4 separate regions of the Homo sapiens genome follow, and all the other regions are linked to region 1. The links come from fine-mapping of genetic effects on gene expression. A gene starts in region 1. Each other region holds a variant in brackets. All regions are shown on one strand. Distances are from middle to middle.

Evidence for each region. PIP is the estimated chance that this variant, and not a neighbour inherited with it, causes the effect. A credible set is the group of variants that fine-mapping cannot tell apart.
Region 2: its variant is the best candidate, but not a certain one, in a credible set for the expression of UBE2W in thyroid (GTEx, PIP 0.74).
Region 3: its variant is the best candidate, but not a certain one, in a credible set for the expression of UBE2W in whole blood (INTERVAL, PIP 0.75).
Region 4: its variant is the best candidate, but not a certain one, in a credible set for the expression of UBE2W in lung (GTEx, PIP 0.51).

What each region holds. Positions count from the first base shown.
Region 1 is chr8:73,874,531-73,882,640 of GRCh38, forward strand. UBE2W (ubiquitin conjugating enzyme E2 W) reads right to left here and starts at 4,332. Exons shown (of 6, transcript NM_018299.6): 1 at 4,278-4,332. The coding sequence starts at 4,292. It overlaps LINC01617 (long intergenic non-protein coding RNA 1617), which reads left to right and starts at 4,452. Exons shown (of 3, transcript NR_147034.1): 1 at 4,452-6,167; 2 at 7,497-7,632; 3 at 7,800-8,110. RefSeq lists enhancers at 3,015-3,064, 3,541-4,418 and silencers at 3,805-4,064, 4,085-4,134, 4,275-4,564.
Region 2 is chr8:73,789,141-73,797,250 of GRCh38, forward strand. UBE2W (ubiquitin conjugating enzyme E2 W) reads right to left here. Exons shown (of 6, transcript NM_018299.6): 6 at 1-4,975. The coding sequence ends at 4,962. Among named protein-coding and RNA genes, the nearest start is that of STAU2, 46 kb to the left of the region's middle. The variant CT/C (reference allele first, on the strand shown) is at 4,976.
Region 3 is chr8:73,802,301-73,810,410 of GRCh38, forward strand. It overlaps UBE2W (ubiquitin conjugating enzyme E2 W), which reads right to left. Exons shown (of 6, transcript NM_018299.6): 5 at 3,351-3,426. Among named protein-coding and RNA genes, the nearest start is that of STAU2, 60 kb to the left of the region's middle. The variant T/C (reference allele first, on the strand shown) is at 4,961.
Region 4 is chr8:73,902,196-73,910,305 of GRCh38, forward strand. It overlaps the pseudogene GYG1P1. Among named protein-coding and RNA genes, the nearest start is that of LINC01617, 27 kb to the left of the region's middle. The variant C/T (reference allele first, on the strand shown) is at 4,629.

The DNA of each region.
Region 1 (8,110 bases):
ACACTTTCAAAAATGTTTAGAATCACATAAAAATTCACTTCAATAAAAGAATGCTTCTGCAGTTTGGGGATAAAAGTTTCTACCAAATAATCAGTCCCTAAAACGCTAAAACTAAAAATTTGCTACAAGAAACTTTTCATGTAATATTTAAAGATTTTTAGAATTACCAAAATTAAATGTAGATCTGTTTAACTCCTATCAATTTTAGGTATCACCACAAATATAACATTCTCTTAATGATGGTTTCTTAAGACTGGGCACATAGGCTCACGCCTGTAATGCCAGGATTTGGGGAGGCCAAGGCAGGTGACTGCTTGAGCCCAGGAGTTCCAGACCAGCCTGGGCAACATAGTGAAACCTGTCTCTACAAAATACAAAAACCTGTAGTCACAGCTACTCAGGAGGCTGAGATGGAAAAGATCACTTGAGCCCAGGGAGGTTGAAACTGCAGCAAGCCGAGACAGCGCCACTGCACTCCAGCCTGGGTGACACAGTGAGACCCTGTCTCCAAAAAAGAAAAGGTTTCTTAAAACATAATTTAACTGTAATCTTACTTGGTGATACATTACTTTTTTCTAGGAAGAAACAATAGGAAGGAAAAGAAAAAAAGAAAATGAGTAAAGAATGTCTCAAAGGGATCACATAAGTCTGAAAACCACTATCTTGAATTGTATATGGCAGAACTCTAGCAATATTAGGGAGTAGAGCGTCCCCAGCATTTACAGGTGTGCCAGAATATTGATCTCCCATCCCGGGAGTTTCATGAGGTGCTGCCTGCCAGGTGCTTCTAGCCTCCCAATCTCATCTACTTTAGTGTACTATTCAAAACTTACTTTCTATGTGGGCAGAACCTAAAAGATGGTTGAGACGCACTGACAGAATACATTAAAGCAGTTACTAGCTCAACTTTAAAATACATACTCTCCAATAAGAAATTCAAAGTCTACCCTTACTTGTTTTACTCATTACCAAGTAATGAAATCCCATGTTACATTTGTATAATATGGCATTTTAAAAAAAATACAGTTCCTCTTAGAGCTTAAGTAACTTCAGCAGCAGCAGCAACATCCTGGTGTGGGTTAGATAAATCTACTAAAAGCTTTTTGGGTTAAGGACATGGTCATTCCATGTTACAGCTTATTTTTTCCTAATCGAAATCCCCAAATGATCAATTTCCTAGTCTTCTTCCATGCTTTTTCTCCACTGCACTATCACCTTCTAATATAATAACACACTTGGCCGCGTGCAGTGGCTCACACCTGTAATCCTAGTACTTTGGGAGGCCGAGGCGAGTGGATCGCCTGAGGTCAGGAGTTCAAGACCAGCCTGGCCAACATGGCAAAACCCAGTCTCCACTAAAAACACAAAAAAAATTACCTGGGCGTGGTGGCCAGCGCCTGTAATCCCAGCTACTCAGGAGACTGAGTAGGAGAATTGCTAGAACCCTGGGAGCGGAGGTTGCAGTGAGCCAAGATGGCATCACTGCACTCCAGCCTGAGCAACACAGCGAGACTCCATCTCAACACAAAAAACAAGAACAAAACACAATTAACTTAAATATGCTGTTCTTATCTGTCTCTTCTTATGAGACTATTTATTATTAAATCCATGAGGGCAGAAATCTTGTCTGCTTTTGTTCATTGCTATAACCACAGCAACTAGATAAGTGTCTGACACATAGAGGTCCCCCAAAAGATAACTGGCTCAGTGAATAAACAAAGTTGATAATTTTATTGAAGATTTATGTATAATCTAGTTGTCTTAAAAGAGCCAAATGTTGCCATTAAGATAGTCAGGATATAAATTCTGTATAACAAAGATACAGAATAACCACACAGAAAGTAGGGTTGTCTTTCAAAAAGCTTGACATATATATTAAAATATTCTTAAAGATACTACCAGCAAATCTGCACTAGATATTTTAAAATACAAATAAAAAGGGAAAGACTTTTCAATAAATATAGGAAGCATCCGTTTTCCATTCCTCTAACCAGAAAACACAGAAGAATAGAGAGTGATAAGATTTCGATGGAACAAGGTGAAGGAAAAACTTAAAAGGGTGGTAAGAGTCTGAGATAGTAATACTTAGGGCACAGAAAAATGCACTATTGCACTGTCAATCAAGTATTTGTTTCCAATTCTTAAGACATCATGTAGGCCAGGCACGGTGGCTCACACCTGTAATCCCAGCACTTTGGGAGGCCAAGGCAGGCGGATCACCTGAGTTCGGGAGTTCAAGACCAGCCTGACCAACATGAAGAAACCCCGTCTCTACTGAAATACAAAATTAGCTGGGCGTGGTGGTTCATGCCTGTAATCCCAGCTACTCAGGAGGCTGAGGTGGGAGAATCGCTTGAACTCGGGAGGTGGAGGCTGCGGTGAGCCAAGATCGCCCCATTGCACTCCAGCCTGGGCAACAAGAGCGAAACTCCATCTCAAAAAAGAAAAAAGACACCATGTAAAGTTCAAGTTCAAGATTACCAACCTCTCTCTTACAAACAAATCTGCCTTTTCCAGATACTAAATCTAACGAGATGACACACTACGTTCTCTTGTCAAATACAAGTGTTGTGGATTTTAATCTTAATGTTTAGCCTCAAATAATGTTTTAATCTTAATACAGATAATAATCTTAAACTTGTCATAAAAAATGTTTTAATCTTAACACAGATAAAAATCTTTAAGTGGTAATGTAGCCTATTGCATCTACTGTTCAACTAGCATTCCACTGTTCCTTTTTTGGCCTCAAATGACGAAACTTCTCCAACGTCTCTGGGGAGACTAGTGTAAAGTATAATGTTTCCTGAAATTGTTCCTGTTTTTTCCCTGCACCATTCGTGATATCTCTTCAACTAGAAATGTTACATAAAACTTTTCTGTTCTGCAGGCAAGTCCAGAGGGAGAAGCAAGGTAAAGAGAATATTGTAAGGAAAACAGGTTGAAAGGGGAATAACATAAAAGCACAGGAGTAAATGTGAAGCAAAGCTATATTTGTACAAAAGAGGAAGAAGATGCAGAAAAGGGAAGAAAAACACTTTTAGCAGAGTAAAGAAAAAAAAATGGAGGAGGAACAGAGACTTGCTTCTTCCAGAAACAAAAGCAAAAAACACTTCTAAGAAAATGTGGTCTCTTTACCCAAGGGGATATTATGAAAACGCTAAAGGGTACTCAGCTGACACTCCTATTGAGCGTTCTACTTTCTCTTCCAATGCCTTTGATACCGCTAGTCTTCACCTGTGAATTAAATGCAGGCTACAGATAACGCACTCAATCCCTGCACAACTACAATTGTGGTTGCCATCTTTGCCTGGAAACAAAAAACAAAAAAACCCACAACTCCCTAGATTCGGGAAAAAGGAGTAAATTAAGTTGGAAAGCCAGAAAACCACGCCTTGCTAAGTCGGGGGGATATGGCACAGGTTAACAAACGCCTCCTACCAAACTAAGGTTCCACTAAAGGTCTGGGAATAAGGGCAAAGAGATGTATAGCCTTATCGCGACCGCAAGGGTGGGGCCTTGCAGTGGGAAACAAAATAGAAGGCAAGCTATCCCGAGAGGTTTAAGGGGGCTGAGGACTCGGCTCTCGGGAGATCGCCCATCAGGCGGTGGACACGGGGCAGCTTCGAGAGGAAGGAGACAGTGGACTGCTGGAGGAATGTCCGCGAGAATACCGAGGCTGATGGAAATAGAAGATACCCACGGGCACAGGATTAAGAGTCAAAGGGAAGAAGAGAGGGACGGGGCCGAGCAGTCTGGGGGGCCCGGCGTGGGAGGCCGGAGCAGAGGCCGCTAAGCGCCGTCCGCAGCCAGCCGCCTTCTCCGGAGACGCATTCTCGGCTCCCGCACACTCAGCCCCCCGCCGCCCCTGCCCCGGCAACAACCGCGGGCGCAGCTGTTTCCGTCGGGCCAGGGACAGCGGGGGTAAAGGCAACCCTGGGGCTGGCGGGCAGCAGACTGGCAGCGCCCGTGTGTGTGTGCGGGGAGCCGATTCTGAGACCGCCAACGCCAGACTTTGCCCTTTCTTCCCCAACCCTCCTTTATCACCCAACTTCCCGGCCGGCTGGTGTCCGCTTCGACCGACGGATACCGCACCCCCCACAACGCCTCTCGCCGCCTCTTACCCCTCCCCCGACGCCCTGAGCTGAGGGAAAACAGGCCACCCGGACCGATCCCGAACCCGCCCGGGTGTCCCCGAATCGCGGACGCCACCCCCGCCCGAACGCTGGCACTCTCTCGGCGGCTCCCTGGCCCGCCCAGATGCAGCAAACTCCTCTCACCTGCATTGACGCCATGATGGAACCATCCCCCCAAGACCGGCGAGGCCAGAGACGCAGGGGGAGGAGCTGCCGTGCTCGCGTCACGCCGCGGGGGCTCAACATCCCGGGCGCGGGGGCGGGGTCTGCGATGGGAAGGGGATGGAGCGAGGGGATTGGCTGGCGCGCAGGGCGGACGGGAGGAGGGGCTACGGGGCGGGGCGAGGGCGCGGTAAATGGCGCTCTGAGTACTTTCTGTCTCAGTCCGGCTGGCCGCTCACGCGTCGGGCCCCCATTTACTCTCGTTACTGAGGAGACACGGCTCCAGTTTTGACCCGACTACGGTTGTTTTCTTCGTGTGTACCGCGAAATGCTGATGACGTCCGGTTCCGCGCAGTTTTTTTCCTATTTCGTTTCCAACCACAGTTGTGCGGTTCACAGATTTTTCCCTTGGGATGTGTTTTCCATACCTCCAAGCCCACTCTCAGAGCCTTGGGGCCCCATAAAACTTCATGCGCAGCTGCTTTCTGGTATTTGCAGACCTGGAAGGCTTCTCGTATTCTTAATTTGGGGAAGAGAGACATAGGTTTCCTTGTACAACGGGATGAGGATTTAAGAGCAGAACGACACTGATATTTTAAAGGCGAGGGTATTTAGATTTGTGGAGCTGAAACTTGCCTGAAAAGGGAGACAAAATTTGGAAGTTTGTTGTGTGCAGTTTCTGCCCCTTACCCCCGCCCTTCACTTTTAAACTGCGCATATATCAACAATAGTTACGGTTGTTGCAGCAGTCTAAATTTGATTATCAGAATTGACCCTAGGCATGAATTTTTTTTTAAATATACCAATGTCGTGTTATATACACTTATACCATTATGTCCAGACTTCTCTTAAGCATAGTTCGTGGTGGGCAGTTTTGTGGTCATTTAGGGATGAACTTGGGTAGGGAAAGCTGAGCATACATAATTTATTTTAGGAATGCACCAGTTCTGCCAACATTTATCAGAAGTCACGTTTTTAAAAAGCTATTCTGGAACTGAAGATGTCATTGGTTTATAAGAGGAAAATGGAAGCCAAAAGCTTACACCTCATGCTCTATCTTTAAAAATTAAGGTGGCAGACACAATGAGTAGAAGGCTTTTATGTTACCAGAATGAAGGCTTAAAATCTGTCATTTTATTGACTCGGCTTTCTTTTTAGAAATTTCTTTAAGATATAAAAGCAATGTGGAATATCACTCTTTCACACTCTTAAAATAGATTACGTTCTCTGGAACTTCTCTAATCTGAAATGTGTTCAAAAAGGAAAAAGATCTTTAAAATACGCCAGTTAGTCTATGGTATAATATTAAACACTATTCATCACTAGAGAAGTTATGGTGGTATACCCTCCCCTTTCTCAGATGTCCACCTTAATGCCAGAAATGAGCGGAGTTTCCCTTTGTTGTGCAAAATGACTGTGTCCTTGAGGGATGTTTGGATGCTCTTGGTAAACCGGAATCAGCCAGAAGCATATCCGGTGTTAGCCTTGTTGTGTCATCAACATTACAACAGTGAGGAAACCCACATATTCCAATGAAAGAGGAAAACTTAAAGAAGAAGTTTCCAGTGTATTTTCTTTGAGATATATTTATTCCTATGACCTCAGAAGATCAGCTTTTACCGTCCAAGGTTCACTTTGCCTAAAAGCTGATTGTTCCTGTGGAAACAGTAGCATCGGATGACCCTACAAACAAAGCATTATGACATCATCAGAGCCAACAACCTGGCATGACAGATACTAATAAGGAAAAAAGAGGTTACAAGAATTCTGACACTCATCACAGTGGATCCAATATCTGGTCCCTTGGGTTTCATATATGTTAGAAGTATCTTCTCAGGAGGGAAAAGTCAATGCCAGTCATATCCTTTCTAGGTAATACTAAATAGCACATAATAACCTGTCTTCTTTTTTTTTTCTTTTTCTTTGAGACGGAGTCTCAGTCTCACCCAGGCTGGAGTGCAATGGCGCGATCTTGGCTCACTGCAACTTCTGCCTCCCAGGTTCAAGTGATTCGAGTAGGTGGGATTACAGGCGCACACCGCCACGCTCTGCTAATTTTTTGTAATTTTTTTGTATATTTTGTAGAGATGGGGGTTTCACCATGTTGGCCAGGCTGGTCTCGAAGTCCTGACCTCGTGATCCACCCGCCTCAGCCTCCCAAAGTGCTGGGATTACAGGTGTGAGCCACTGCGCCCGGCCATTCTTTTGTTAATATTTAATAAAAAGATCCTGACATAGGAGCCAAAACAGTGACTTACAGATGGTATGGGGGGTATATAATTATCTCCAGTGAGCATGTAATGTTAATATCTAAAACACTATTATGCCATGTTTGAAGACTAGGCTCATATTTCTACAGAGCGAGGCTTACTATCATTACTATCAGATAGGCAAAAGTTAAAATGTCTGACAGGATAATGCCAGTGCACTCCAGTCTAGGTGACAGAGCAAGACCCTGTTGTCTCAAAAAAAATATCTGACAATACCAAAAGTGAGAGAGGAAGTGGAGCTCTCATAAACTCTATAGGAGTGACACTAGTGCAATCACTTTGGAAAATAGTTCGGCAATAATGAAGTTAAAGTTTCCCATATCCTTACTGGATCTTCTTAATAGCATCATATGAGTTTTATATATATTTATATATATATTATAAATATATATATTTATATATAATATAAAATATATATATTATATATTTATATATATATTTATATATATATATATATTTTTTTTGAGACGGAGTCTCAGTCTGTCACCCAGGCTAGAGTGCGGTGGCGCGATCTTGGCCCACTGCAACTGCAGCCTGCCGGGCTCAGGTGATTCTCCTGCCTCAGCCTCCCTAGTAGCTGGGACTACAGGCATGTGCCACCACACCTGGCTAATTTTTTGTATTTTTAGTAGAGACGGGGTTTCATCATGTTGCCCAGGCTGGTCTCGAACTCCTGGCCTCAAGTGATCCACCTGCCTTGGCCTTCCAAAGTGCTGGCATTACAGGGATTACAGGCCATGCTTGGCCACGTAAGAGTACATTGAACAAATGCATATGTTAACATTGTTTGGATCTAGATTCAAACAAACTGTAAAAGAGATATTTTTGAGACACCTGGAGAAAATTAAATATAGAGTAGATATTAGAGGATATTAAGGAATTATTATTTTTGTTAGATTTGATAATGATGTTCACTTTTTCATTTCCACAGCTATTAGAAATGTCCATCAGCTTACGAGGAGATTCTCCCTCATCTCACAAACTACCTGCATCTCCACTTCCCTGGAAGAAAAAAAAAATCTGGACATACCCAAGCTGTGTATGTGCCTGAGATCTTCCCTTCCAAGGTAAAGAGAGAGCCTGAGACAGGTCTAAATTAGCATCTGGACTTTCTGCTAGTAAAGAAAAGGAAATATGGGAAACTAAATAGTAACATTAAAGGACCCACAAAGGGACTACTGGGTAAGTGCTATAATGGATAATGTAATGTGATTTATGAATGCTTTTGTTCTAGTGATTTATTAAACTGGGAAGTCAGAAGCAGTCCTGTGAACATTTGTTTGTTGAAGCATGAAAAGGCAGAATTGATGAGTCCTTGCTTGAGTCTATGCCTCCACCCAGTAGTTTGTTCTTAGTCTCCTAGGGGCTGATCTCAGCAGAGAAATGGAGACAGTTCAGTCACCAACAGTTTGTTACTGGATTTTGGAAAAGGTACCAAAGTAAGAATCCAAGGCTTGTATTCTTATCTTAGCTCTGTGATTAACAAGCTTAGGTAAGGCTTCTAATCTTTCTGGGTTTCTTTCCTTATCAATAAAATGCGCAAGT
Region 2 (8,110 bases), 85 kb before region 1:
GCCTCTAATGATAATGATGTACATAAACCTGTCTTAAATCGGCAAACAGACGAGGCATGGTGGCTTGCACCTGTAATCCCAGCATTTTGGGAGGCTGAGGCAGGAGGAATGCTTGAGCCCAGGAATTCAAGATCAGCCTGGGCAACATGGTGAGACCTCGTGTCTTTAAAAAAAAAAAAAAAAAAAAAAAAAAAAAAAAAAATTCTATCCATCCAGGCATGGTGGCACACACCTGTAGACTCAGCTACCCGGGAGGCAGGAGGATTGCTTGAGCCAAGGTGGTCAAGGCTGCAATGACTGTTCCACTGCACACTCCAGCCTGGGCAACAGAGGAAGACCGTCTCAAAAAACAAAAAACAACCCACACACAATTTATGTTGAGAAAGCAAGTCTCCCACAAATTATTTTTAAAAAATGATTCCAGGCTGGGTGTGGTGGGTCATGCCTGTAATCGCAGCACTTTGGGAGGCTGAGGTGGGCAGATCACTTGAAGTCAGGAGTTCAACACCAGCCTGGCCAACACGGTGAAACCTTGTCTCTACTAAAAATTAGTCAGGTGTGGCAGCACATGCCTGTAATCCCAGCTACTCAAGAGGCTGAGGCAGGAGAATCGCTTAGACCCAGGAGGTGGAGATTGAAATGAGCCAAGATCGTGCACTGCACTAAAGCCCGGGTGACAGAGCAAGACTCCGTCTCAAAAATAAATAAATAAATAAATAATAAAAATAATCATTCCACATCTCAAAATGACTTAGAAATTTAAATGGAAAAAATAAATAATTTGCTTGGACAATAATTTGGCTTTGGGAGAGTCCTCATCCGAAAATAACAAAATTTCCTTAATATTAGTACTAAAGAACTAATTACAGCTAACAGCTCATTTACCAAGTAGTCAATTATTCAACAAATTTAGCCATCTACTGACAAACTGAAATTAGTATCAGAAACTCCATGTATTTTATTTGTAGGAGAGCATTTTAAATTTTTCAAAAATTCATGGCATAATTTTAATAATCGTCCTTCTGTAGAATCCCTAACCTCAGAAAAAAAAAAGAGAGAATAAATTAGAAGTGAGAAAAGGAAACTGCGGAAGACTGACACATTGGACATCAGTGGGAAGAGGCAGAAAAATAGGAAGAAAAATAAAGGACAGATTTAAAACAATTTAAAAAGGACTACAAAGAGGATTGGGGCCAGTTGGTGCAGATTAAAAGACACCTTCTTCACAGACCTCAATCATGCACAGGCAGTAACGGCATTACTATAACACAGAACAGTATAGTAGCTGATTCTGATAATGAATCCTCAGAAAAGAAGAATATGGTTAAGCTTCAGTTCTTTTTGAAAAGCAATTTACATACACAATTACAAATAATTGTAAATTTTAAGCATTCAGCTAAGATATGTACAAAAAAATTAATGAAAGTGAGATCAAGAAATATAAGCAGCAGTAACCATAAAGGCTTAGAACTAGTGACACTGAATTCTTTATTTAAAAAAATTTTTGTAACACACAGTACCTCCTCTTCTCTTCTATTTTTAGGAAGAAGTTATAACAAGTTTTAAATATCTCAATTCTGAAAAACAATAGGCTTTTAAAAAATAAGACTTGATTACCAGAAACAAGTAATATGTAGTTACATAACCATTTTCATATCACTACTCATTTCCATTATTTACCAATTCATCTTTGATGCAACTTGGAAACAATTAAGCAGTCACTAGACACCTGTTTTAGAATCTGAAGAAATTATTATCCACCACAGGAATCTAATGATATATATATTTGCATATATTTAAAATTTCATGAGGGAAAAGGTAATAAACTATTCTAGTTATTTTATACCAAATATTGATATTCCTAGTCAAAACAACAAGGAATTAAGATCTTTCTCCAGGTGAACTGCTGACTATATAGAAGCTATTTCCAGCACTTTCTTCTGGGGATTAAAAATGATTTATTTCCCTGCTGGCTAAAATGATAAATTATATATTACAAGTAAGTCCTTCAGAAGTGAATATTAATTCCTTAAGAGAACCATAAAATGTATTTTTAAAAAATTCTCTTAAAAACTGAAAACAATCCTTCTCTCTAAACCTATGGCATTAATCCCTACTTGACCAAAGAAAAAAAAAAAAAAGAAGGGCATCATGTTCATGATCTAAGCATGCATAAATAAGGAAGCAAATGTATCACTGTCTTAATAGAATTTGGCAAACCAGAAGAATGGCCTAAAAATAAATAAATAAATAAATAAAAGAAGAAGAGTGTACCTTATCTTCTAAGTATGAAAGTCTAATTCTGTAGGCCTATGTCGCAAATAGTGCCCCACGAGGAAATGCAGGGAGGAGGCAAGTAGCATATTCCTATATACATTTTCTTGATATTCTGGTTGTCTTTCAACAATGCATTACAGAGAAATATTCTTTTTATTATTACAAGCCATTAATTGCTCTCTGTAGAGCAATGACTCAGATAAATGCCTTATGACTTTTAATAATGTAACTAACATATAAATTAAATCTAAGTGCAAGGAGTTTTCAATGATTCCTAAATTCAAGAGAGTGTTGTTAGCCTGATTATGAATTTTAAATGTCTGTGCTCCTATATTTTAGGATATTTCATCTTATTTTCTACTCTTTAAACCATAAGATGTACCGAAATTATTTCATTTTCCTCTACTTTCCTCTGTGTCATTTTAGTTTACTTTATGGTATTTATATGTAGAGAGAGAGGTATGTTAAAATATTGTCATAAAAAACTCAATTGAGGCTATATATGACCTATTACTCTATAGTATAGCATTGTTAATCTTTGACTCAGTATATTAATTCCTTTGGTGAATAAATGTCACCGGTCATTTCTTTATAAAAGCATTTTGGTAAGAGAACCAGCAATATGGAGACAGATTTCTCCCTAACCCCCAGAAGAAGATCAAGTCAAACAGTAGTGTAGAGCAGTTACGCAAAATATGAAAATACATAATTTACAGCTGCAATTTTCATATTAAAAGCAGTTTAAAACTATGAGTAATTCAAAGACTTTCTGTCTTGGTTAAACAGGCCAACTAATAAAACTGACAGAGATCATTGTGAGAATTTATCTAGTCAAGATAGAACAAAAACGGTTATAATTTTTTAAAAGTGGTAATTGTTAACTAGCAGTATATAAACAGTGTCCACAATTTGGTGGCTGGCCACGGTTTTAATTTTTTTTTTCAAGTTATTTCTATAGCAGACATATTTTTGAAGTCTACCCACCCCTGAGTTCAGCAATTATACTTTGAGTGTAAAATTATATGCCCTTAATTAACAACATGTACAAAGCTACAAAATGTCATCTATACAGATTAAAAACAATTTTAAAATATTATTTACCAATTATTGATTGAATGGTTTTACTGGGGTACGTATTTCAAACCTTTCAGCCAACTGGCTTTCAGTTTTAAGCCCAAATTGATTCATATATTCACTGCAGGATATTTCAAAAAGAGTGCAACAATAAGGCATTAGTAAAAATAACATTGTAGTAGAAACAGATTTTGCATATGTGAAAAGGTAATTTATAAAATACATTAATCACTTTTTAAAAAGAACTTAGTTGTAGTATCATTAACTCACATGGTACTGAGAACTGGACCTTTCAACAATTTTTTTTTTCTATAGAAAGTTTCATCTAGCTGTAAGCAAAGTCTTTTCAACAACAACAAAACAAAACCCTCCAGGAAAAACTATATGGCTGTGTGAGACAAATAAGCAACCATTTGATAGTGACTTTTGCCTAAATTTTAAAATAAAAATGTCCACACTCTTTTGTTAAAACATTAAGCCTCTGTCAAAAATGTATTTCTTATTTTAGGGTACAGGATTAAAGGACAAGATGATACTCACAAGTAAAGAAAATTTACAAGAAAAAACTTAACAAAAGTTTCAATAAAAGTATTGTAACATTCAAACTTGACTTATAACAAAAGAAACAAGATTGCAAACAAAAATGTTTACGGGGTTTCCAAACATAAATAAATGAAATAGTGTTTAGGCAGTAGGGCTCATGCTGATGGCTAGCAGGAAGTTAACAGAGTGTAACTTACTTGGAAAAAATCTTTAATGTACAAATAACAAGCCCAAATTATGGACTGCAGCAATTTAATCATCACTGCCATTTTTCTTACTTCCAAAATAAAGCCTTGATTAAACCATTCATACCCTATATTACTCATACCTTTACTTCAGAGATTGAGGAACTATATACAACAAATTAATTTATTTTCACCATAGGGATAACATACTGTACCTCTCTGCCAATGTTACTTGAAAATCTTCCATGTCAAAACAACTTGACAGTAGATATAAACAATTCAATAAATATGCAATGATCTTTCATTACAGTCCTTTAAAGACGCATGTTAATTCATGCTGTTAACCTTAGGATCACAGTGCATAGAATCCAAATATAAACAGTTGGGGTGACTTTTAAAGTAATGTTGGATCCCTCACTTTATTTATATTCCCACTATAACCAGTAAGTTCATTTCATAGGCCCTATCATGCATTAATCATTGAATGGCAGGAGTTAATGAAAACTTTTCCTGTTACAACGCCCATTGCCGGCAATGAACGTACCAAAACCGCCAAGGAAGTCATTGTTATTGCACAATACATGAGGACCTGGAGCTTTTCCAAAAGCTTAAAAAAATAAAAATAAAAAATGGAATTATATTTGACATTTCCTGACACCTGCATTAATACTGTATGACTAATAAAAGCATGTCAGTTGCCTGGACTGAACCAGCGATCAACATGCGCCCAGAATGCACACGAGTAAAAATGCAGTAAAAGGAAGTAGTCTTCATTGCCTATAGGTCACTTCCAGTCAAAGGTTAAAGTTCAAAGACTGAATGATCAAAGTGCTCATTTTCTCAGTAGGACTATCTTCTGCTAGGAGGATGATAACAGTGGCATCAACAAGTATCAT[CT/C]TTAAGAAAAGGAGAAAAAAGATAATTAAAAAGTCAAGCATGTATAAGTAAATTCTACAAGTCTGTTTAATGTAGAAATAATTTCAATTAGCAAGAAGTACATAGTTTACATGTCTGATCTGCCTCCCCCAAACCTGTGAATACAAAGTGCAATATATGTTCAATTATACAGTGACAAATTTTTATTCTTTCAGAGAAATAGTTCACATAAACCTTAAAATGATATGTTATTAGCACATTCTATTTAAAATAATAAACTGACATGACATGTTAGTACATAGTCAGGATGTATCAATCTTAAGAGAATTATTTTATGGGCAACAAGTTCACATTGTAATGAGACAGAAGTAAACTCCTGATCAACAGTGCCATGCTATTTAACACAGAATAATACACAATTTGTCTTTAGACTGTGAAGGAAGTAACTGTTCTTTACCAATGAGATACAATCTCCAAATCAATAAACAGTTAAGATTAATTTCCCTTTAGAAAATAAGTTTTCAGGCCGGACACGGTGGCTCACACCTGTAATCCCAGCACTTTGGGAGGCCGAGGCGGGCGGATCACTTGAGGTCAGGTGTTTTGAGACCAGCCTGGCCAACATGGTGAAACCCTCCCTCTACTAAAAATACAAAAATTAGCTGGGCGTCGTGGCACACATCGGTAGTCTCAGCTACTCAGGAGGCTGAGGCAAGGGAATCGCTTCAACCTGAGAGGCAGAGGGAGGCTCTGTCTCATAAAAAAAAAAAAAAAGAAAAAAAAAAAAAGAAAATAAGCTTTCAGCAAGTATAGATACATATGCAAATGGGGTCATTAAAAAACTCATGAAATTATTTAATAATAACTTCTGGTAGCCTCAACACATATATATGTAACACAGACAACTTTAGGATTATTTATTTTACAAAATTTATTTCACAAAACATATCTGAAAGATTTATTCTGAGGATGAGTTATTCTTCAGAAGGAAGCTACATAAAGAAACTAAGACTGGTGGCCAAGAGTTGTGAAAGCACTCAAGGAAAAAATTCTGAAATCCTAGTCAAAATATTTTACAGACTGATATGGTTTGGATATCTGCCCCTTCAAATCTCATGTTGAAATGAGTGATCCCCCATGTTGGAGAGGGGCCTAATGGGGAGGTGTTCGGGTCATGGGGGCAGATCCCTCAGGAATGGTTTGGTGCCCTCCTTGCAGTCATTAGTTCACATGAGATCTGGCTGTTAAAGGGGCTGGGACCTCCTTCCTGTCTCTTGCTCCCTTCTATTGCCATGTGACTTGCCTGCTCTCCCTTCACCCTTCCACCATGAGTAAAAGCTTCCTGAGGCCTCACCAGAAGCAAATGCCAGCACTATGCTTCTCTACAGTCTTCCAAACTGTGAGCCAAATAAACTTCTCTTCTCATAAATTAGTCTCAGGTACTTCTTCAGAGCAACACAAAACAGATTAATACACTATCTCATGTTAGAATTGATATACTGCTAATTAAAAACCAGTAAAATCTGACTTCTAAGCTGGGCAAACTCATAGAGTATTCCATGATCCAGTAATTTCAAGGGGGAAACAGACTGGAGTTTAAAAATAAATCATCCCTAATTCATTAGACGCCTTAAAATAAATAAGAATAGTATCTTTAAGAAAACAAGTAGTTTATATCCTCTAAAGTTCACTCACAATTTTCTTGGCAATGCAAAGTGGCTCACGCCTGTAATTCCAGCATTTGGGGAGGCTGAGGTGGATGGACTGCTTGGGCCCAGGAGTTCAAGACCAGCCTAGGCAATACGGCAAAATGTTGCCTCTACAAAAAATACAAAAATTAGCCTGGCATGGTAGTGCATGCCTGTAGTCCCAGCTACTTGGGAGGCTGAGGCTGAGGTGGGAGGATCGCTTGAGTCTCAGAGGTTGAGGCTGCAGTGAGCCGTGATCCCTAGCCAACACCATCTCCAAAAAAAAAAAAAAAAAAAAAAAGGGGGATGTTCTTTAAATTATTGTGGTACTTGAAACAGACAGAGAAGATATACTTGTTATGGATATAAAACAAACTTAGGAATATTAATAAGTTCCTTAAAACATCGCTTCTGCAATAGAGTAACAATAGGGTTGGTCGCTGAAACTAACACTAAAACTAATCATACTCAAATCTCTAAGCTAAAAGATGGCACTAAAATTCTACCTAATATGTCAAACTACTGGGGATAAATTTTAAGGTGATACAAGATAACAATATATACAATAAGAAAAGTGACAGATAAAATTCAATTTGAACATAATGTTATCCAGTTAACTACCAATAAACTTGTATCTCCAAAGACATACCATCTTTGACAGGTGGTAGCACAAATGCATCTTTATTTACTAACTTGTTCATTGCAGAAGGTTTTTAGTATAGTAGGTTTTCTGTAGAACGTGCTACCAAAATGATTAGGAAATCTTTGTGAAGCTACTTTCCAGATCCCAATCCCTGTTTCTGACTGATATGATACTACCCACCTTTGAATACCCTCGTTTTGAAGAAACAAATGATCTGTAACAGCTAGATCAACAGGGACTTGCGGGACTACGAATCCATGATGGCTATATGTAATCAAGAGTTTATAAGCAAACTTTAAGTATAGATACAACTATGAGCCAAAGCCATCGCCATCCTTTTTCTAAATAGGATGGCCATAACTAAGAAGCAAAAAACTTATCCGTTACTAGAAAGAACATAGTTTGCTAGCCAGATGAAAGTATTATTGGATACCAGGACAAACTCACCCCCCAACCAAAAATAAATAAATAAAAAATAAAAAAAATCAGAGTAACCCATTTTGGGTCAAGACAAATACAGGCTGACAAAAGGTGGTAAAAGAATGGTATATTTAATCTCTTGGTTAAAGCATTTGTAACAAGATAATGGCCTGAAGAAAAATCTAATTATTAACCATTTATATTTTTCCTGGAAATTCAGAAGCCTCTACTAAAATTACACTTTCAAATATAACATACAAGCTGCCAGTTTCAAAGAGGTGACACCTACCATGGCTAACTTCACTGGGCTTCTGAGAAATGTAAATGAGAAAGAACTATATTAGAAGAAGGTCATTTAGTTTTCTCCTGAGAATAAAAACTATCATATAGTTTTCCAACTATCA
Region 3 (8,110 bases), 72 kb before region 1:
GATTCAGAAACTGTTTCAAAATCTTAAACTGGTAATTATTTTACTGAGCTGCACTTTTTTGCCTATTTTGTTTTTTATCCTTAAGTAACTTTCATAAACGGTTTATTTTTAATAAGCTATAAACATTTCAAAATTTTTTCAAACTTTATAACGATAGTGCTTTAAAGTTAAAGAAGCTGTACATTTTCATATAATTGAATGTTTAATTTCTTTGTGATTCCTTTTAAATTCAGAAATTCTTCCTTTCTCCAGAGAGCTGATACCCAACATTGAAAAAAAACATTTTTTTGGTTATATTTTAAAAATAGGCCAGGCGCAGTGGCTCACGCCTGTAATCCCAGCACTTTGGGAGGCTGAGGCAGGCGATCACCCTGAGGTCAGGAGTTCGAGACCAGCCTGGCCAACATGGCAAAACCCGTCTCTACTAAAAATACAAAAATTGGCCGGGTGTGGAGGCTCATGCCTGTAATCCCAGCACTTTGGGAGGCCGAGGTGGGTGGATCACGAGGTCAGGAGATCAAGACCATCCTGGCTAACACAGTGAAACCCCGTCTCTACTAAAAATACAAAAAATTAGCCGAGCGAGGTGGCGGGCGCCTGTAGTCCCAGCTACGCGGGAGGCTGAGGCAGGAGAATGGTGTGAACCCTGGGAGGTGGAGCTTGCAGTGAGCCGAAGTTGCGAAACTGCACTCCAGCCTGGGCGACAGCAAGACTCCGTCTCAAAATAAATAAATAAATAAACAAAAATAAAAATAAAAATACAAAAATCAGCTGGGCATGGTGGCGCGCCTGTAATCCCAGCTACTAGGGAGGCTGAGGGCAGGAGAATTGCTTGAACCCAGGAGGCAGAGGATGCAGTGAGCCTAGATCACGCCACTGCACTCCAGCCTGGGCAACAGAGCGAGACTTCATCTCAAAAAATAAATAAAAAATAAATAAATACAAATACTGAACCCACAAGAAATATTTTATGCAGTGAAAATATTCCTTCTCCAAAGGATTACAGATTTTCCAAGATGATTACTTACTAAATAATCCTTCCCCTTATCACTGATTTGTAATGCCTTATCATATATTCAAATGTTATATTCAACTGGGCCTAAATAAGAGGAACTGTATTTCAATGATCTGTTCTTCTATTAGTATTTTTAGTGTCCTGTCTGGTAGATTAATTCTCCATTACCTTTATGGCTCAAAATTCAAACTTTGTTCTTCTCATCTACTATTTTTTTCCCAAACTTTTCAAACACCTATCTCCCTTCCCACCCCCACAATCATTCACTGGATTTGTAATGAACTCCATCGAACCTACAGTTTGTAAAATACACGTATTTTTATTTCACAGCTCTTAAAGTTTTGCCATTTTCTTCTTCTTCTAAGTCATATGTATTTCTTATTGATATTACCCCAAATTTTCACATTTCTGTCTCTCAGGAACAGCATATTTCTTTGTTTTCTTTTTTCTTTTCTTTTTTTTTTTTTTTGAGACGGAGGCTTGCTCTGTCGCCCAGGCTGGAGTGCAGTGGCGCGATCTCCGCTCACTATGAGCTCCGCCTCCTGGGTTCATGCCATTCTCCTGACTCGGCCTCCCGAGTAACTGGGACTACAGGCGCCTGCCACCACGCCCGGCTAATTTTTTGTATTTTTAGTAGAGACAGGGTTTCACCGTGTTAGCCAGGATGGTCTCAATCTCCTGGTCTCGTGATCCACCCACCTCAGCCTCCCAAAGTGCTGGGATTACAGGCATGAGCCACCACGCCCGGCCACTTCTTTGTGTTTTCTAATTTTTAACTACTGGCATAGTTCTATTGCACTGACTCGGGTCATCTTTTCGTTCAACACCTGGGGAACTTTTAAGTTTTTAATTCACTCAATTTAGGTGAGGATACAGAAGGCTTCACACTGGATAGAAGATACGGGGAGAAGGTCATAGTTCAATTAGTTTTTGCTAGTTCTAATTTATTATCAGGTTAACATTAAAAAAAAAAAAAAACCCACACACATAAAAAACCCCAAAGGCAATACTCTTATGTATACAAAAATCACAGGGGATGGTTTTTGTTTACTTGCTTCAAAAACTACATTGAAGAATACAGACTTTTTGTTTTTAATTTCAAATAACTCTTCAGGGAAGCATTAAGGTTAGTTTAGAAATACTAGCAGCTCTGAATTATCATTACCATCCCAACAAATACAATAGAAATTTAAAATTAGAGAGTACTTTATTAATACAACTACAATCAGCAGAATCTCACTTTTTTTTTTTTAAGGGATAATGATTAGAATAGAGAGCTTTCTAATTTAATGAGGTACCCCTTACTGTGACTCCCGCCTCCTCCCGGCCATGAATACTACCAGAACTAAATGAACAAACAAGGCATCAAAACTTCTATTTCAAACAACAGACTTCCCAGTAACTAGTTCTTTTTTTTTTTTCCTTTGGAGATAGAGTCTCATTCCATCACTGTCACCCAGGCTGGAGTAGAGTAGCGTGATCTCAGCTCACTTCAACCTTCGCCACCAGGGTTCAAGTGATTCTCATGCATCAGCCTCCAGTGGAATTAGCTGCAAGCCACCACGCCCATCTAATTTTTGTACTTTTAGTAGAGACGAAGTTTCACCATGTTGACCAAGCTAGTCTTGAACTCCTGACCTCAAGTGATCTGCCCACCTCTGCCTCCCAAAGTGCTGGGATTACAGGCGTAGGCCACCATGCCTGGGCTCCCAGTAAATAGTTCTAATTTGATCTAAAGATTATTAACAACTTCTTTTCTGTAATACAATGGTAGAGTCTCCGAATGTCAAAGTAATTTTACATTTTACTTTTATGATGGCTATGATTTTGTTTGCCCCATTAAAAATCTGGTGTAGTGCTGGGCGTGGTGGCTCACGCCTGTAATCCCAGAACTTTGGGATGCCCAGGTGGGCAGATCACCTGAGGTCAGGAGTTCAAGACCAGACTCATCAACACACAGAAACCCCATCTCTACTAAAAATACAAAATTAGCTGGGTGTGGTTGCACATGCCTGTAATCTCAGCTACTTGGGAAGCTGAGGAAGGACAATCGCTTGAACCCAAGAGGCAGAGGTTGTGGTGAGCCAAGAATAACACCATTGCACTCCAGCCTGGGCAACAAGAGCAAAACTCCATCTCAAAAAAAAAAAAAAAAACAAAAAAAACTAGGGTAATTCATCCATTAAATATATTAGAATATTTTAAAGAATTTTCTTCATATAACATAAATATAACACCAATTATAGCTTCTCTTCTTTTTCCCAAGTCTTATAGCAAATATATATAATCTTCATATCAAAATGCTAAAAAGTTATTACAAATTCAAACTGCTTACCATGATACCACCATTTTGTTTTCTTTGGATTCTTGTTACATGTTCGCACATAAAAAGAATTATCCGGTGGTCGTCTCTGAAACAAAAAATAATTTAAATAGGTTGAAAAACAGAAAAACTGAGAGGGTGACAGTTTTAATAAAAGCTTAAGAAAAATTAACAGAATGCATAAAAAACAATATAAACATGAATAGTATATCTAAAAGAATAAAAACTATAAATGTATTCCAGGAAATGTGTATGCTTAACACCTAAATTTAAAAAAGGAATAATAAGCGTGTTTGAGTGTGGTCTGTGTTAGGTTCTAGCCTGGCCAACATGGTGAAACCCAGTCTCTACTAAAAATACAAAAAAATTAGCTGGGCATGGTGGTGCGTGCCTGTAATCCCAGCTACTTGGGAGGCTGAGGCAGGAGAATTGATTGAACCCGGGAGGCAGAGGTTGCAGTGAGCCAAGATTGTGACATTGCACTCCAGCCTGACAACAGAGCGAGACTCTCGTCTCAAAACAAACAAACAAAAAATTAAATAAATTATAAAGGGAATGAAAAAGGACTGATGAGAAAAGTCAAATTCACATAATAATTTAAACATAGCCGGGCGCAGTGGTGGGCATCTGTAATCTCAGGTACTTGGAAGGCTGAAGCAGGAGAATTGCTTGAACCCAGAAGGTGGAGGTTGCAGTGAGCCGAGATGGTGCCACTGCACTCCAGCTTGGGTGACAGAGTGAGACTCCATCTCAAAAAATAAATAAATAATAAAACAAAGGGCCAGGCGCGGTGGCTCACGCCTGTAATCCCAGCACTTTGGGAGGCCGAGGCGGGTGGATCACGAGGCCAGGAGATCGAGACCATCCTGGCTAACACGGTGAAACCCTGTCTGCTAAAAATACAAAAAAAAAAAAAAAAAAAATTAGCCGGGCGTGTTGGCGGGCGCCTGTAGTCCCAGCTAACTCAGGAGGCTGAGGCAGGAGAATGGCGTGAGACTGGGAGGCGGAGCTTGCAATGAGCCGAGATTGCGCCACTGCACTCCAGCCTGCGTGACAGAACCAGACTTCGTCTCAAAACAAAACAGAAAAGTCTACTAAACTAGATTTGTTGGGAGAAGTATAGCAATGTACAAACCTCCACAAAGAACTGTTTTTACTGTAATAGAATACCATCAAAGATAGACCAGAAGATTCAGTTTCTAAACAATATTTAAGAGAAAAAATGGGAAAAATATATATTGGCATTTCTACTATAATTGGCCTTTCTGCTGAACATATGCCCTGACTAGAACAATATATGAGAAATATATGGCAGCTCCGCAAGGGAGCTACCGCAGATAAAGTGATGCCAACAACACTGAAGATATATTATGGAAGAGACTTTTCCTGAAATTTGTTGCATACTGCCTAGACAAAAGAAAATGTTACCCTCTACAAAGACTTGGAAACATCAAATTTATATTAAAGCTATATTAAAGTTTATAGATACTATGATAGATATCCTTATCCTTTAGTCTCCTTTATGCCTTTCGGAATCATTCCAATAACTTGATTATTTTCCTATCATTAAATATTGTATAGTGTATATGCAGGATTTATTTTCAGACTTAAATCTGCTTAGC[T/C]AAGCTAATGAAAATGAGAGATTAAGGGAATCCTCTCCTCTACCTGAGGCTAATGAAAATAAGTGAATTTGGTATGACATCATTTAAGGAAAGTCTAACCAGAAAGCAATCGTGAGTAGGACTCTGTGATAGCAGGAAGGAAAACAGTTAGTCCATTTGGCACTTCTAAAACTCATATATGTAACTATCAGTCTAGTTGAGCCTCACAATGCTCTTATGTGTTAATATTAGTAATTTCATTTAACAAAAAGAAACATTAGAGCATAAGACAGTCAAGACATTTAGGTATTCCAAGTCAATCTGTGGACACAATTTGAGAAAATTCCTAAAAAATGAATATTATGAAATTAGATGCCTGACTACTTCAAGGAAGGGATGATTCTACAAAGTTAAATCTATGTTCATATGGAATTGGTACTACTAGAGCAGATACTTTCACAAACTCATTTTATGTATATGTTGATTAGAACCCAAGAATCATCAGAAAAGTCTTCAAAAAATACATATTTAGAAAAAAGAAATACTCAATTCTATTTGCTTAAATCATTTATCTCCCTGACAAATGATCAGGGAGATACAGTTCTTGGAAAAGAAACTATACAAAAGAAGTCTTACGAAATTGTTTTAGGAATGGGATACAAACTGAAAAGTTTGAACAATGTAAATATATTACAAAGGCATGCAAATAAAGTGGAATTTACTGAAAGTCCTGTGATCTCAATATCAGAAATTATCTTTAATCCACTACAATCTAATGACATACTGGATTTAAATACCTTCAGTTTATGGAACCACTCCTGACTGTGTAAAAGGAAATTGGAATAGAAGAATTATGACTAAAGTCCCAAACACCTAAAGTAAAATATTTAATAGTAGTAGAATTAACAAAGTAAAGCCCATAGAACCATGTCCACTACGGAATAAAATTTACCCGTTTTAATAATAATAAAACGTGTAGATGGGTATTTAAAATACTTTTCTTTTTTCTTTTTTGAGACAGAGTCTTGCTCTATTACCCAGGTTGGAGTGCAGTGGCGTGATATCAGCTTACTGCAACTTCAGCCTCTGGGTTTAAGCAAGTCTTGTGCATCAACCTCCCAAGTAGCTGGGACTACAGGCATGCGCCACCACGCCCAGCTAATTTTTCTATTTTTAGTAAACAGGGTTTAGCCATTTTGCCTAGGCTGCTCTTGAACTCCTGGCCTCAAGTGCTCCACCCTTCTCGGCCTCCCAAAGTAGTAGGATTACAGGCGTGAGCCACTGCACCTGGCCTAAAACACTTTTTAAGGTTTCTTTGGAGCTTAGATCTCTCTAATGCCAGATCGTCTCAATGCCAAGGCAAATTTCCTCTTCATCTTTGTAACTTATCACTTAGCACAGTAAAAGTAGCACATACTAGGTACCTAGTAAATGTTTTTTGAATTTTATCGTATTTCATGGAAATCTTGATTTCTGTATTATCATCTTGGTTAAATATTATACAACTATTACAGTAAAAACATAGTTTATTAGTGCTTTAAATGGAATGATTAGTCTTATACTAAGTGTACAAGAAACACTAGTAGCAGACAACTAGAATGTAAGGGGAATGGTGAGGGTTAGAGGAAGATGAAGGAAGTACACAGAATATAGTCATTCTCTAGTTTTTAATAATAAATCATTATATTTAAATGTAAATAAAATCTAATAATCATGAGGCACATGCAAGACTATGTACAGATATCGCTGACATTAATCTCTTAATAACTTTCTTATTAAATACTGTTGTTACCGTCTCACCTTTCTATAGTCTTTAAGCGTAACAGGAACATAGAAGGCCTTGTACCCACAAACTGCTTTGCCCTACACATAAAAGTTTAAAACGTGTGTGTGTGTTGGGGGTGGGTGAGAGGAGAAAATATAACAGCAATAAGCAACAAATGAGTAAAAAAACAAAACAAAACCAATTTAACCTATTATTTCACATGCTGTGGCTTAGAGTGCTTCAGATTCTAAATAACCTATCATTAAAAAATGAACTATTATCTTAAAAGTTCTCCAAATACTAATTTAATAAAAATGACAATCAGTTCAATTTGGAGAAAAGGAAAGAAAACTGTAAAACACAAATAACTCCCTAACCTCTAGGGCAAAGCTGTTTCTCCTTTAAACAGAATGCAAAAGGAAAACCCTCATAGGGATTTAAGAGGGGTTTTAAAATGTAGAAATACATAAATGTTATGCTATACTAACCCTTAAGCAGGAATGACAAGAGTGTCAGAAGTGTACAGAGGATTCAGATACATTTAAAGGGTATCCTAAATTTATATGTATATTTTAAATTTATTTCATTATTATTTTCTTGAGATGGAGTCTCGCTCTGTCACCCAGGCTGTAGTGTAGTGGCATGATCTTGGCTCACTGCAACCTCCTGGGTTCAAGCAATTCTCCTACCTCAGTCTCCTGAGTAGCTGGGATTACAGGCATATACCATCACACCCAGTTAATTTTTGTATTTTTAGTAGAGACAGGGTTTCACCATGTTGGCCAGCTGGTCTCGAACTCCTGACCGCAGGTGATTCACCTGCCTAGGCCTTCTAAAGTGCTGGGATTACAGGTGTAAGCCACCGTGCCCAGCCTACATTTTAAGTTTAATTAAGTGATTTTTTTTCTTTTTGTTTTTTTTCCCCCCACTTCCATCAGACATAGAATCTGTGGATTAATAAAGGAGAACAGGAAGAAACGCCCTGAAAATTCGACTGGTAAACTGGTCTTCCTCCTTCAACCTAATCATTAGGACAGGGAAGCTCTGGTTCCTGAAAAATTCCCTGAAACAGGTTGATCGGGTGGGAGCTGGCAGAGGGGAGAAGGAAGCTATGATGCACTTTTCTGAGGCTTTCCACTGTGAAATCTACAAAAAGAATTTCTTGTATACTTTTACCTGTGCATGCTTTTGGGAATAAAATCAGCTTTAAGAAAATACCGTACATTTCCTGTTTAAAAGAATATAAAACAGTAAGTCTGGCTTCTACCCCATTCAACATGTAAAACTTCTATTTGGAATGAAAGGTATCAAAATAACTTTCCAATTTATTACTAAACATGAAATTCCCTATAATTTTCAAATAAAAAGCATAAATCCTTCCTCCAAATAAAAATAATTACATATTA
Region 4 (8,110 bases), 28 kb after region 1:
TCTGGTCCCATGTTGAAGAAGTGATTGGTGACTAGGAGTCAGTGTCAAAACCTTTGAAGGCACATTTGAGCAACAACGGAGGTTTGAAAAGAGTGGCTGTCAGGCTAAGTGTACCTGGAGTTTATTGTTAAGTCCAATTTTGTCTGTTCTGTAGTTTTTGCTATAACCTCAAAGTTCAGGACCAGAATTATTCTGTTAGGAGTTGTACTTCTGCAAAAGTTTAACAGGTAACAGATACAAATTTTAAAAGGTAAAATATAAAGTAAAACTAATAGTGTTATGACAATCCCAGTTAGCATAATGGTTTTGAGCTATGAACTAGGCTTAAAAGCAACCAATTGAATGAATCAAACGACTGTTATCCTGTCAAGTGGAAAGGTAAGCATTAAGAGTCTCATGGGCCGGGCACACTGGCTCACACCTGTGATCCCAGCATTTTGTGAGGTTAAGGTGGGTGGATCGCTTGAGCCCAGGAGTTTGAGACCAGCCTGGGCAACATAAAGAAACCCCATCTTTTTTAAAAATAGAAAAATTAGCAGGGCCCGGTGGTGCACACCTGTAGTCTCAGCTACTTGGAGGCTGAGGTGGGAGGATCACCTGAGCCCAACAATCAGAGGTTGCAGTGAGCCAAGATCACGCCACATCACAGCATTCCAGCCTGGGCGACAGAATGAGACCCTGTCTCAAAAAAAAAAAAAAAAAAAAAAAAAAAAGAAAAGAACAAGAAAAAAGAAAAGAGTCTCATGATATGGAGTCTTGTTCTGACCTCTTGAGAAAAGCGGTCTATAGCATGAAAATATCCTGGTTTGCAGTATGAATATCTCTGATGATGGCATTGAGCAGTGTGGTGAACTTTTTATGTGGTCCATATATCAGTCATAAGACTTATTCTTAAAATTCATCTAGTTTTGAATTATGGGGCTTCGGGAACAGAAAAGTTCTGATTTTTAGTATTTTCTCTCTTTTTTTTTTTTTTTTTTTTGAGACAGAGTGTTGCTTTGTCTCCCAGGCTGGAGCAGTGGCGCAATCTCAGCTCACTGAAACCTCTGCCTCCTGGGCTTAAGTGATTCTTCTGCCTCAGCTTCCCAAGTAGCTGTTGGAATTATAGGCACACACCACCATGCCCTGCTAATTGCTTTTTTTTTTTTTTTTTTTAGTCAAGATGGGGTTTCACCATGTTGGCCAGGCTGGTCTTGAACTCTTGACCTCAAGTGATCCACCTGCCTTGGCCTCACAAAGTGCTGGGATTACAGGCGTGAACCACCACACCCGGCCCTGTTCTTAGTATTTTCATGGAAGAAAGTTGGATTGGAGGAATGTAGAAGAATTTAGAATCTACTCTTGGCTATAGGTAGATAATAAGAACTCAAAAACAATGCACAGGGCTACAATCTAATAACAGGTGTATTATAGTTTTTCTTTTAGAAATATTTCCTCTCTACATTGATCACATAGAAATGTCAGATTTAAAAACTTCTTGGGGCTAAGAAGCCAAAACCAAGGAAGACTTTAGATTTTCCTCCAGTGTGAAGGTTCCTGGGCCTGCCAGGAAGTGATAAGAGTTTACTCATGTCACTGTAAGGCTGAGAACTCTTGAAACCAGGTATTCTATTCACGCTTTTAAATACGATATTTTAGTCAAGGCATTGGTAATATAACCCATATTTCCAATGGTATCCTGTTATAAAGAGAGAACAGATTTTTACTGAACTTATGCAAATAACCATATTGCCATAAGAAAACTCACAAATAACTTCTGAATTTTGGAGGGATCAAGTAGGGAGAAAAAGCACATGCTTCCACCTTTGTTCACAAAAAGTATACTTTACCAAATTGCTGTAAACTATAGATAGCTTAAAAGAAAATTTATTTAAATCTGGAAAACAAAAAGTTTAAGTAAAAAACCAAGTTTTAAAATAAAAGTCATAAAAACATTATCTTCATCAGTTATTCAATTTCATGAAATTAATTTTTGTTTCCTTTGATCTTAATTAGCAGTTTTGTGAATTTATCAGAGTTTTGGAAAACTTTTATTTAGTCTATTGATCTTAAAGTTGTTAGAAACTTGTCTTAGGAATACTTGTTAGAATCTTTTCCATGAATCTGATTAGATGCCACTAGAGAAAAATCAAAACCATGGATGATAGAGACAGACTAGCCATGTTTAAAATCTGATGAACATTCATTATAATCAGCAATTGACAAGTAAATGTACTCATTTTTGAGACATACAACCTAATAACCAAAATTATGACTGATGATATACTAGACTTTTAAGAATTCTATATTACTCTAGAAAATTTATATCAATAATATACCCATAAATGTAACTGAAAAAAATCTAGTATGACTTATTATTTGACAGTAATAATGACTTTCTATAAATTTAATACATCAAACAAGCTTAATTATTTAACATCTCTACAAAATGAGAGATACATCCTTTATTTTATTTTTCTTCATTTTTCATACAGGGTGCCACCACAGGTAACCATCAGAGAACACACTGCTATTTTCAAATAAACAGAACTGAACAAAAGCATTTTAGCATGGTGTCTATGGTATCTTACTGTACATAGAAAACTGGTGAACATCTTCAGACACTAAGAGCAGGAAATAAAATGAGTGAATGCTATTTGTTGATACGTTTATGAATCACTCAATAGTGTTAATATAGGCTATCTTTACCTGAAAGCAAAACTACAATTACTGACTCTGGCAGCACTGGACAATTCTAAAATGCAGGTCTAATGAAAAGTAGGTACAACCAGCAAGCAAGCAAGGGACAGATGCCATGTCTGCTTCCAAAGGGCATGACTGATTGGGAACCAGGCTCTGCAGATTTTAAGAGTTGTTATAGTCATCTTAACAGCTTAATATTAAGTTTCCCTTACCTTGTATGTTGGCAATCAACAAAAGTGAGAATTTCTGAAATGAGCTAAATAGGATTAAAAAGCAGAACACTGTCCATATAACAGAATTGCTGCTTCACAACTTTTGCCCAGTTCTCACCTGTTGTCCTACAAAAACCTCTCATCTGATAAATTTTAGTGAAAACCTCTGCCAACTGTAACAGACTTTCTCAGCCCAGCTCTAGATACTTAGTATTTGAAACAAGGCTTGTGAAGTGGATGCATCCACAGGAAAATGCAGTGTTTCTACTGGAGGTAGGTGTCAAGTTTCCTTTTTATGTTGTCAAAGGAATCTGCTCCCATATAATCAGCCTGGCCCTGTTCCCACTGCTCCTTCCATTCTTCTGAGGATACAAAAGGCTGTGCCATAGCTGGGATCTCGCCAAGGGACAGATGTGATATGGCTCCAGAGACATCTTCCACATTTACATATGAGCAGGTGTCTTTGACAAGGCCAAATTGTTGAAGCAGAGGTAAAACGTTGCTGGTAAACATGTTCCACCATAGGATGAGAAACTCTGGATAAGTTATGTTGGGATCATGGGAATCACTTTTGACACTTTTTGTTTTGGGATCATATATATAATTCCATGGTTTGACTTGTCCCAGGAAATGCACAACTTTGGCACTTACACCAAACACTTTAAATGCTGGGAGATGGGAGTATATAGAGATGCTGCTTAGGTTATAAATAAATGGCAAGTGTTTTCTGATATCTGTTGTTGCCCAGCTGCTAAAAAATGTGTTCAGGCTGGGTGCAGTGGCTCATGCCTGTCATCCCAGCACTTTGGGAGGGCAAGGCGGGTGGATCACCTGAGGTCAGAAGTTCAAGACCAGCCTGGCCAACATGATGAAACCCAGTCTCTACACAAATACAAAATTTGGCCAGGCACGGTGTCTCACACCTGTAATCCCAGTGAGAGGTAAGGCCAGCTGGACTTCCTGGGTCAAGTGGGGACTTGGGGAACTTTCTTATCTTACAAGAGGATTGTAAAATGCACCAATCAGTGCTCTATAAAACGCACCAATGAGCACTCTGTAAAATGCACTAATCAGCACTCTGTAAAACGCACCAGTCAGCACTCTGTAAAATGCACCAATCAGCAGGATTCTAAAAGTAGCCAATCATGGGGAGGATTGGAAAAAGGGCACTCTGATAGGACAGAAATGGAACATGGGAGGGGACGATAACGGAATAAGGACTGGACACCCCAGCCAGCAGTGGCAACACACTTGGGTCCCCTTCCATGCTGTGGAAGCTTTGTTCTTTTGCTCTTCACAATAAATCTTGCTACCACTCACTCTTTGGGTCCGTGCCATCTTTAAGAGCTGTAACACACAGTGCGAAGGTCCACGGCTTCATTCTTGAAGTCAGTGAGACCACGAACCCACTGGCAGGAAACAACTCTGGACACATCTTGGGGGCTCGTCTGCGATGTTGCAATGCAATGGTCTGGGTACCATCGGACCCCTTTCACTTGCTATTCTGTCCTATTTTTCCTTAGAATTCAGGAGCTAAACACCGGGCACCTGTTGGCCAGTTAAAAGTGACTAGTGCGCTGCCAGACTAAAGACATGGGTTTCAGGCTATCTGGGAAAGGGCTCTTCAACAACCCCCGACTCTTCGGAATCAGGAGCGTTGGTTTGCCTGGAACCAGCTTCCACTTTTCCTGCACTTCTAGGCTGAGCTGAGGGTCAACAGAGAGGAAAGCCATT[C/T]AGCTCTGGGGTCCCAAGAAGAAGTTGGTTGTCCCTGCAGCCCTGAGCAGAGCTCTCAAAGTTACGTCACCCAAGTGAGACTCGCCTATCTATCCTATCTATCATGACCATTGCCTCCTGGGTCCTAACGCCTGTCAGACAAACTTCCTGTTGCCTCTCTTCTCTGAGGCTAGTCCTGCTTCTGAAAATCACTCCCTAGTTTCTTCTATAAGGATGATTTCTAATATAGATTTTGGGACTCTGTTCCCTTCTTTAGGCACCCAGGCTCACCAATCAGAAAGAACCCAAATTGTTCAATGGGAAATAAGCACCCTGGGGCACATAATTTTTGACCAGAGCCCCGTCAGGGGGGACTATCTGGAATACCGTCTATCCTTTTAGGATCCCTCCTCAGACTAGCAGAACTAACAAAGGCTATTCCCAAAGCTAGCATATGGGGAGCCTCAGAAATTATAGACTCCTAAATTGGGGGGATATGCTTCCTATTCATATGATGAGAAGTGAGAACAAAAGGCGTCACCCTTCCAACCCTGGAGATCCCTTCCCTCCCTCAAGTTATGGCCCTCCACTCCATTTTGAGGCATGTCATCTTTATAGGACAAGGGTAAGGTCCCAATAACAACAGGAAAAAACACTTAGGACTCTAACAGGTTTTCAAGAATGCATCAGTAAGGGCCACTAAATCTGACCTTTCTCAGTCCTCTTGTGGTCTAAGAGGAAAGGCAAGTGTACAGGTTTTCAAGAATGTGTCGGTAAGGGCCACTAAATCTGACCTTCCTCTTTGTAGGAGGAAAACAAGGGTTTCCACTGCTGCTTCAGTGAGCGCAACTATTCCAAACGGCAGGGTCCAGGGACTGTTGTGGGTTCTTGGGTGGGGGGAAAAACAGACAAAAACCACGGGTGGTTTTTTCTTTCTGTTTTAGATGGGAAACACTCAGGCATCAACAAGCTCACCCTTGAAATGCATCCTAAGCCATTGGCACCAATTTGGCCCATAAACCCTGAAAAAGAAGTGGCTTATTTTTGTCTGCACTACAGCCTGGCCCCAATATTTTCTCTCTGATGGGGAAAAATGGCCACCTGAGGGAAGTATAAATTACAATACTATCCTGCAGCTTGACCTTTTCTGTAAGAGGGAAAGCAAATGGAGTGAAATACCTTATGTCCAAACTTTCTTTTCATTGAAGGATAATCCACAACTACACAAAGCTTGCAATCTACATTCCACAGGAGGACCTCTCAGCTTACCCCTACATCCTAGCTTCCTTACAGGTCCCCTTCCTATTAATGATCAGCCTCCTCTAATCTCTCCCACCCAGAAGGAAACAAGCAAAGAAATCTCCAAGGGACCACAAAAACCCCTGGGCTATTGGTTATGTGCCCTTCAAGCTGTAGGGGGAGGGGAATTTTGCCCAACCCGGGTACACGTCCCCTTCTCCCTCTCTGATTTAAAGCAGATCAAGGTAGATCTGGGGAAGTTTTCAGATGATCCTGATAGGTATATAGATGTCCTACAGGGTCTAGGGCAAACCTTTGACCTTACTTGGAGAGATAACATGCTACTGTCAGATCAAACCCTGGCCTTTAATGAAAAGAATGCGGCTTTAGCTGCAGCCTGACAGTTTGAAGATACCTGGTATCTTAGTCGAGTAAATGATAGAATGACAGCTGAAGAAAGGGACAAATTCCCTACCGATCAGCAAGCCGTCCCCAGTATGAATCCCCACTGGGACCTTGACTCAGATCATGGGGACTGGATTTGCAAACATCTGTTGACCTGTGTTCTAGAAGGACTAAGAAGAATTAGGAAAAAGCCCATGAATTATTCAATGATGTCCGCCATAACTCAGAGAAAGGAAGAAAATCCTACTGCCTTTCTCGAGTGGCTATGGGAGGCCTTAAGAAAATATACTTCCCTGTCACCCGACTCCCTCAAGGGTCAATTGATCCTAAAAAATAAGTTTATTACCCAATCAACCACAGATATCAGGAGAAAGCTACAAAAGCTAGCCCTGGGCCCTGAACAAAATTTGGAGGAATTATTAAACCTGGCAACCTCAGTGTTCTATAACAAGGACCAAAAGGAACAGGCCGAAAAGGAAAAGCAAGATAAGAGAAAGGCTGCAGCCTTAGTCATGGCCCTCTGACAAACAAACATTGGTGGTTCAGACAGGACAGAAAATGGAGCAGGCCAATCACCCAGTAGGGCTTGTTATCAGTGTGGTTTGAAGGGACACTTTAAAAAAGATTCTCCAATGAGAAACAAGCCACCCCCTCACCCATGTCCAGTATGTTAAGGCAATCACTAGAAGGCACACTGCCCCAGAGGACAAGTGTTCTCTGGGCCCGAAGCCCCCAACCAGATGATCCAACAACAGGACTGAAGGTAACTGGGGCAAGTGCCAGCTCATGTCATCACCCTCACTGAGCCCTGGGTAAGTTTAACCATTGAGGGCCAGGAAATTGACTTCCTCTCGGACACTGTCACAGCCTTCTCAGTGTTAATCTCCTGACCCGGACAGCTGTCCTCACAGTCCGTTACCATCTGAGGAATCCTGGGACAGTCTGTAACCAGGTATTTCTCCCACCTCCTTGGTTGTAATTGGAAGACTTTGCTCTTTTCACATGCCTTTCTTTTTATGCCTGAAAGTCCCACACCCTTATTAGGCCAAAGCTGGAGCTATTAGCTACATGAATATGGGGGACAAGTTACCCATTAGTTGTCCCCTACTGGAGGAGGGAATCAACCCTGAAGTCTGGGCATTGGAAGGACAATTTGGAAAGGCAAAAAATGCCCCCCACCCCAGTTCAAATCAGGCTAAAAGACCTCACCACTTTTCCTTATCAAAGGCAATACCCTTCCGGCCTGAAGCTCATAAAGGATTACAGGATATTGTTGACATTTAAAAGCTCAAGGGTTAGTAAGGAATGCAGCAGTTCCTGCAACCCCAATTTTAGGAGCACAAAAACTGAATGGTCAGTGGAGACTAGTGCAAGATCTTAGACTCATTTATGAGGCAGTAATTCCTCTATGTCCAGCTGTACCCAACCCCTATACCCTACTCTCTCAAACACCAGAGGAAGGAGAATGGTTCACTGTTCTGGACCTCAAGGATACCTTCTTCTGCATTCCCCTGCACTCTGACTCCCAGTTTCTCTTTGCATTTGAGGATCCCACAGACCACACATCCCAACTTATGTGGACGGTCTTTCTTCAAGGGTTTAGGGAAAGCTCTCATCTGTTTGGTCAGGCACTGGCCCAAGATCTAGGCTACTTCTCAAGTCCAGGCACTCTGGTCCTTCAGTGTGTGGATGATTTACATTTGGCTACCAGTTCGGAAGCCTCATGCCAGCAGGCTACTCTAGATCTCTTGAACTTTCTAGCTAATCAAGGGTACAAGGTGTCTAAATCAAAGGCCCAGATCTGCCTACAAGTCAAATATCTAGGCCTAATCTTAGCCAGAGGAACCAGGGCCCTCAGC